Homo sapiens: one gene and its partner. The protein of the gene in region 2 interacts with the protein of the main gene of each other region in a pairwise test. Each region holds a gene or a part of one and is shown on either strand. Other genes may lie near its edges. The genes, in order: PDGFRA and MAP2K3.

Region 1 (3,768 bases), on a different chromosome or scaffold from region 2:
ACCCATTTAGGTAGATATGAAGCAAACGTAGAGATGTGTGTATGGGAATATATATACACAGATGCATACAAAGGGAACTGGAAGTTTAAAAGACACACCAAGTGGTGCAGCTCTGCCTCTTGGAAACAGGACAGGGACAGGGAAGAAGACACGGTGAAAAAAATAATTTAACATTTTACTTCCTACACTTTTACGACAGTTGAATGTTGTACAGAGTTACTGCAGTCCTGTATTCCTTATGCAGGGGAAGAAAACACCACAGGATAAAGATGAACAATCAAAAAAATGATGAGACCAAAGATGAGCCAAGTGCCAATCATCTTTAAGTCAAATACTGTGTCGTGGAACAATCTAGCTCATATAATGTCTTAAACCTTAGATATTCTATTGGTTCATCAAAAGCCTAATAAAGGCCAGGCGTGGTGGTTCACACCTGTAATCCCAGCACTTTGGGAGGCCGAGGCAGGCAGATCATCTAAGGTCAGGAGTTCGAGACCAGCCCGGCCAACATGATGAAACCCCCATCTCTACTAAAAATACAAAAATTAGCCAGGCATGGTGGCAGGCGCCTATAATCCCAGCTACTTGGGAGGCTGAGGCAGGAGAATTGCTTGAACTCGGGAGGCAGAAGTTGCAGTGAACTGAGATCACGCCACTGCACTCCAGCCTGGATGACAAGAGCAAAACTCCGTCTCAGGAAAAAAAAAAAAAAGGCCTAATATAGAGTCCTACAAATGTTGCTAAGAAAGTAAATAGAACAGGATTGCTTTAATTCTTATGATTAAACTAAAAACAAAAATGCTGAAACCTTAGTATAACTTTAAATTATATATCATTTATTGAAATATAAAGATCTTCATTTACACGTTTTAAAACAAAAACATGAACAGGGGCATTCGTAATACATTTTGTATTGGTAGACCCTATCAAGTTAGTTTTTCTCACACATTCACCACACCATTGTTTTGGGAACATGTAAGTATCTTTCTTTTTATTATTTCTAAAATATAAATTTTGGACATTCAAAAGTGCAACAGTTAATGTGCCTGTGGGGATTATCACAGTTAAAAAAATATAAACGAAGGCAGTGATACAGCTTGTCATAAATGTTTTGGCAGTATTCTCCAAGTCTATATAGAAATACATATATACATATTGATGTATAACATCATTTTATCTTATGTCCCTCTTCACAAAAATAGGACCATTTTGTACAGATTGGCAGACCACATTTTAAGGACATCACTAATCGTTTAAAAAGTCACAAATAGTGTTTCTCAGGCCGGCTTTGATTGTCATCATAAAAATAGAAAGTAGGAAAGATTGGCAAATTTTCTTCTGGAGACTTTGCAGGAGGCCAAAAGGAAACAAATCTGGAATTTGCTGAAAACACACACACACACACAAATGCAGTCATATACAAATTCAGGTGGGAGCATTTGTTAGGACTGGAAACTGCTGGACTGAGAAGTTTCATCCGGCCTCATGATGTCATGCAAGGCTCACAGCAATATCAAAATGCAAAGCACCAACAAAATAAGGCTGTACAAGGGAGAGTGAGCGATAAACAGAATGCTTGAGCTGTGATTCTAGAAACACAAACGTATTTCAAGTCTAATTGGCTCTACAGAACCTAGTCAGGTTTTCGTTTTTAATTGGCCAATCTGGCTCAGTCTTCGCACTTACTATGAAAAAGTTGGATAAGAAAGTTGGGGCTTGCATTGAGATTACACCAGTAGGTAGTCAAGTACTTTATTATTGCTTCTGCATCTTCCAAAGCATCATCTGCCGATAGCACAGTGATTGCAGTAATCACAGCCCATGTTTCATTCATATGGTATCAGCAATTAAGCAGTATTGCAAAGAATGCCAATGAACCCACACCAACCTGTTTGACAGTGTGGATAGATGTGACAATTCATCCTCCCATCTAACCTCAAATTATCAGTAAAACTTAAAATGTTTTTTCCACCAAAACACTGAGCTGGTTACACAGAGACTTGGAACACTGAATTGCATAATTTTTGTACATGCCTTTCCTTGGCGGGGTATGGAGTGGGAGGCAGAAGACGGGAGACGGGGAAAGTTCAATCTCCCCCATACAGTGGGAAGTAGCATCTTTACTTTTGGAAAACCTGTCAAAACCAAACTTTAGCTTTCTCAGCCTCAGCTAAGACTGGAAAGTTAAATTAAGGTCGCAATTGCTAGCTAGATGGCATTAAATGTCACTAACCTGAAGCCAAGGATTTAAATAGTAGGCTTCCTGCGTGGTTGAATGCCAACCCTGTTCCAAAGTTCAAATTATTTGTTTCCCATGGCAACTTCCTGAAACCTAAGTCAGTGTTTCCGAAAACTGGCCGATCAGAACAGCCAGGGAGTTTAGAAAAATACAGACTCTGGTTTCCCTCAGACTTCATACTTCAGAATCTCAAGGATGGAAACCCAGGATCTAGTCATCCTGGCTGCCACACACATTTGAGAACTGAGGATCCAGGCTAATGCACATCCAGCCTCCACTAAAGAATATCTTTATGGTCTCGAGTTTCAAACTCTTTCTCTTTGGGGTAAGGGGTGAAAGAAGGAGGCTGATGTCTGGGCATCCTTCTGACCCTTTTCAGGTTCATAGATTCAAAAAATACATATATTGGGGTCGCCAAAGCTTTCATCAGGCATGAAGAAAAAAAAAAAAAAAACTTCTGCAAATCCAGTCTTTTTGCTGATCATTATATTTTCCATTGGGTAATATACATGAGAAGTTATGTTCAGCACAGGTTTATGCCTCTACATTGAGAACTTTTAGGACTTAAGAGTTTTGTTTGTTTCTAATCCCATTATTTCAGAGGGCAGTTAATTGTTTTTTAATACGATGGATTGGGGAACCTATTCAGTACAGTTAAAAATTCTGACTTCCTGGACAACACTACTTTTACTTTGTTCTCTATGCTCAACTAAATTTAATTCACTAAAGCTATTACCATACTTTATAGAGAAACATGTTATTTAATATAAATGTCAAAAACTGTCAAACTCATCACCTACTTAGTAAGGATTGTTTTAAATTGTGCTTTCTCTGGAGGGAAATCATGTTACATTATTACACATTTAGCATTACTGATAACAGTAGTAGTATTATAAACATAGATTACAATATGAAAATGAGTTGTCAGGCTTCTAAATGACCCAAATCTATTAAACAAGGTTGGTTAATTATTATTCTTTATCTCTTTAACACTAAAAAAGATAGCAAAATGCTATAGTACCAGTACCTTTTAAGGTTCAAAAATGGTTTTTCATGCACTTCTTTAAAAAGTTCAACAGCAGCTGACATCAGGTTTCAAGAGGGAAGTACATGGATGGATTGAGTGGTCTCTTCAGAAGTCCAAAGAAGATAGTTAATACAATCTAAACACAGCCTTGGTTAGAGTTATTTACATAATTACAATGCTGAAGTTCTGTCGCAGTATAAATTGTGTCTGTTGGACTCTCACCAATGTCCTTGAAGCACAAAGTTCACCTTCTGTGGCCTATTATTCCCTTATCCATCTATCTCCAAACTTCACACACCACTGAGATGCTACTGAGGCATTGCAAGAGGCAACACTGACAAAGTTCATTTCAAAATATCCCATTCATTCATATTTAGAACGCTCCCCGAGGCCCTTGGCTGGGAACTTCTCTTTAAACATCAACCAAGTCCTCCTCTCAACCTCTGCATTGCAATAAAGTGGTTTTCTGAACGGGATCCAGAGGTGGCCCCAGAAGTGGAAG
Region 2 (3,915 bases):
GAGCAGGGAGGCCGGGAGCCTAGGCGATGCTGGGCTCATACTGGTCACTTGCCCCTCAAAGAGCTGTGGCAGGGTCAGGGCATCTGAGTCCAGCCATCGGGCAAGGTCAGGGCTGCTTCACCTGTCCTCACTCGTCACTCATGAAGAGCTCAGCATCCTCTGTGCCAGCCCCTAGCCGATGGGGCCCCTGCAGCCTGCGGGTGCCCCCTGCGCATCTCCCAACCTTCCTGTCAGGAGGGTCCTCAGGAGTTCACTGGGGAAGAGGGAGCAGGTCCTTGCAGGCAGGGAGCCATCTGCCAGGGTCAGCTGGCATGAGGGTGTCTGTCGGTCAGCAGGGCCGGCTGTTGCCATGGAGCTGGTGCAGGTGCATCCTGAAGCTCTGGTGGAGGGACCCAGCGAGGCTGTGTGCTAATCCTCTTCCTCCCTGGAGACACCTGGAATTAGGGATCAGATAGAGGAGGCTGGCGCCCGAACCTGGCAGTGCAGGCAGAGTTGGAGGGTGGGGGAAGCGGGCAAGTGGGTGGTGGGTGGGAGCCCGGTGAACTGTGGCTGAGTGGGTGGGCACACGTCGGAGAGGGGGCTGGGGCTGGGGCTGGTGCTGGGGCAGGCAGTGCAGGTGGTGCAGACACGGGCAGCCCGGCAGCCTGGCTGAGCTCTGGGTGTCACCCACAGGGAGACGTGTGGATCTGCATGGAGCTCATGGACACATCCTTGGACAAGTTCTACCGGAAGGTGCTGGATAAAAACATGACAATTCCAGAGGACATCCTTGGGGAGATTGCTGTGTCTGTGAGTGGCCTGGGTGGGCTGGCGGGGGGTCCTAGGTGCATAGGCAGAGGCCCAGCCCTGCCAGCAGGCATGGAGCCTGCCTATTGATGGTGTCTTGGGCAGAGCTGGGCATCAATGTGCCCCCTGAACCTGGGCAGCTGCCCTGCATAGGCCCTTCTCCTCCACCCCAGACCAGAGCCTTTGTGCTTAGGAGACCTCCGCTCCTGGGGCTCCTGGAGCCCCACAGATTTGGCAGATCCAGGTGTCTGAGCCATTGATTCCAACTCTTGAGTTCCAGATCATTTTTTAAAAAAGGAATTTAGTATTTACAACAGCGTCATACTAAAAATGCCCCGGGGCAGCTCACAGAGGTACAAGCTAAGTTGGGGGAAAGGTTAGCATCCAAAATGTGTGCTTTTTGAGTCTAAAAAGTCCTTGAGGGAGGGCAGCAACACTGGGCTTGAGCATTCCAGTAGCCAAAGGAAAAAGGAAAATAGAACCAGTGAGACTGGTTCAATCCTCACTGCATCTGGAAACATTTACAATATACCCCTGCCTCAGGCTCCCCACCCAGCCTTCCCAAGGGAAATGGCTCCAAGCTGCTAGAATACTGGCTCTGCCACGGGAGGGGAGATGGGACAGGGAGGCTGCCAAGAGCTGGGTTTTACCCAAGAAGAGTGTGGCAGGCAGTGATGATGCCTCCCTGGGAGGTGAGCCCGGGAGGATGAGAGGAGGCAGGAGGCCGAGTGTGTCTGCACCAGGATTGTTAGGATGCTGGGGCAAATGCCAGGACAGGGCAGGAGGCTGGGATGAGAGGGTGCGTAGCCTGTGCAGCGGGAGCGGGAGACAGGTGGACATGGATGGGGTCTTACTGCTCTGTCGTTTTTGACGTGACCAGGAATAACAGAGTCCTGTCTCTTCCCTCCTCCCCACCCCACCGCCAGATCGTGCGGGCCCTGGAGCATCTGCACAGCAAGCTGTCGGTGATCCACAGAGGTCAGTGCCCGGCAGCCACCCAGGCACGGTGTAGCCAGTGGGAGGGATCCCAGGCCAAGGCGGGTGGACGTCTCCCTATGAGCAACTGTGGCTCCGAGAGGTGATAGGTTGTGACGTGCCCGATGGGGTTCCAGCCGCTTTCCACCTGCAGCCCTGCAGCTGCCTCCCCTCAGGTTTGCTGGTGCTCGAAGCAAGGACTGGCTTGACTTCTGTCCTGAGAAAGGTGGACTGGGTTCTGTTCTGATGTATAGTTTACAAATCGTGAAACTCCAGCATAGAGTGCATATAATCATGTTCACACCCATGCAACCACCTCCCTCCAAGATGCAGGACAATTCTCTCACCCCCTCCCAGAATGTTCTCTTGGGCTCCTTCCCTGCCATCCCCCATGTGCCTAAGGCACCCACAAGTCTGGTTTTCCCACAGTGGGTTGGTTTCGCCCTTTCTGGAACATCAGCCTCGCTTGATGTTTCTGGACCCACCTGGGTCTGGTGTGGTCTCAGTTTGTTCCTTTTTGCTGCTGAGCACAAGTCTATTTTTCCAGATTTACTGCTTTTCAAAAAATGAATTAGGCTTAGTTCCCATTGTCCACTGGGTGCCCATCCCAGCCCCCCAGGTCACTGTGGTTGGCGGTTGGCACGGAACCTTCTGGTCCTTTTTATGTGCATTTCCATCTTTACACACATCCCCATGGAGGGCACGGGGATGTGAGTGTCCTATGCGCATTTGTATGGAGAATCCCTGCTGGGCTGCTCTCCCATGCTGGTCTGTGGGGACTCCATGTCCAAACACGCAGATCCTGCCTCCCAGGCTTTAATTGATCCTGCTGCCCTCTGGGAGCACCCACACAAGCCAGGCTCTCACTGGACCTCATGTCTGGAGGGCGGATGCAGGCACGGTGCTCCCAGCAAAGCACCTGGAGTCCTGCCTTCCTTGCAGTGGCCGGGCCGGGCTGGGCACGTCCTGGCTGTTCCCTGAGGACCAAGTATGACTCTCAGCTGGCCCGGCACCTCTTGCAGCCTCAGTTCCCTGGTCTGACCCTTGGGACCCTGGTGCAACCTGCCCACTGGGGCATGGGAGGGGGCACAGGAGGGGTCTTGGGCGAGGGAGGGGGGCACAGCTATGCAGAGCATGGCACCTGCCTCCAGTCGTGCTCCACAGACGTGGCTGAGGCATGTCCCTCCCTGGCAGATGTGAAGCCCTCCAATGTCCTTATCAACAAGGAGGGCCATGTGAAGATGTGTGACTTTGGCATCAGTGGCTACTTGGTGGACTCTGTGGCCAAGACGATGGATGCCGGCTGCAAGCCCTACATGGCCGTGAGTGGTCCCCAAGCCCCCCAGGCTCAGGAGAGGATGGGGCGGGGAGAAATCTGCCCAGGCTGGCCACCCCGGCCATACCCTCTGTCCGTAGGGGCAGAGCCTCCCCACACTGCGTTTCCTGCTGTAGTGGGGCCACCTGTGTCTTGCTGCCCAGGGGCAGCCCTTCTGTACCCCGTTGTTAACTGACCCCCACAGTGCCCCAGTTGGGTGATAAGCTCATGGACCACCTCTGCGGAGGACACTGGTGGGCTGTGCAGGTCCCGCCCCGCCCTCATTGTCAGGAGGGCCTTAGGGGCCTGCTCCCGGGTAGGGTCAGACCGATGCAAGGGTTGGGCCTTCTAAGCATGACCCAGGCCCTCCTAGCCTCAGTTTCCTCCCCCGTCACATGGGCAGGTGGGCTAAGCTGAGCGCTCAGTTTGGGGATTGGGAGGCAAGGCCTAGCCATGGGGGCTTACCTGGGGCGGGTGTTCACGCCTCACTCTTCCCTCCTGCAGCCTGAGAGGATCAACCCAGAGCTGAACCAGAAGGGCTACAATGTCAAGTCCGACGTCTGGAGCCTGGGCATCACCATGGTACTGTGGGGGGCCAGGGCCTGCCCTTGGTGGTCAGGTGGGGTGGGTGGAGCCGTGCCTGGGGCCCTGAGCTTTTGGGGGACTCATCAAATAGTTTAGGTTCTGGAAAGAAGTATTGGCTTCAAAATCTGAGAAGAAAATGTGCCATCAGAAATTACCATCTATTTAAGGGAACCTCCTAGGGTCAGGGTCACTCATCGTGAAGTCCTGGGTGCTTTGTGATATGGTGGCCACAGGGCTTTCTCTGGAGTTCTTGG

What was found.
Region 1: the proteins of MAP2K3 (region 2) and PDGFRA come close enough for resonance energy transfer, tested with the Homo sapiens proteins (2 studies listed by BioGRID).

Annotation. Positions count from the first base shown.
Region 1 is NC_000004.12:54,295,293-54,299,060, reverse strand, and holds the end of PDGFRA (platelet-derived growth factor receptor alpha isoform 1 precursor), read right to left. Parts: 3' UTR 816-3,768; downstream 1-815. UniProt on the Homo sapiens protein: Tyrosine-protein kinase that acts as a cell-surface receptor for PDGFA, PDGFB and PDGFC and plays an essential role in the regulation of embryonic development, cell proliferation, survival and chemotaxis.
Region 2 is NC_000017.11:21,301,471-21,305,385, forward strand, and holds part of MAP2K3 (dual specificity mitogen-activated protein kinase kinase 3), read left to right. Parts: intron 1-672; coding exon 673-789; intron 790-1,712; coding exon 1,713-1,764; intron 1,765-2,955; coding exon 2,956-3,083; intron 3,084-3,580; coding exon 3,581-3,658; intron 3,659-3,915. UniProt on the Homo sapiens protein: Dual specificity kinase. Is activated by cytokines and environmental stress in vivo. Catalyzes the concomitant phosphorylation of a threonine and a tyrosine residue in the MAP kinase p38.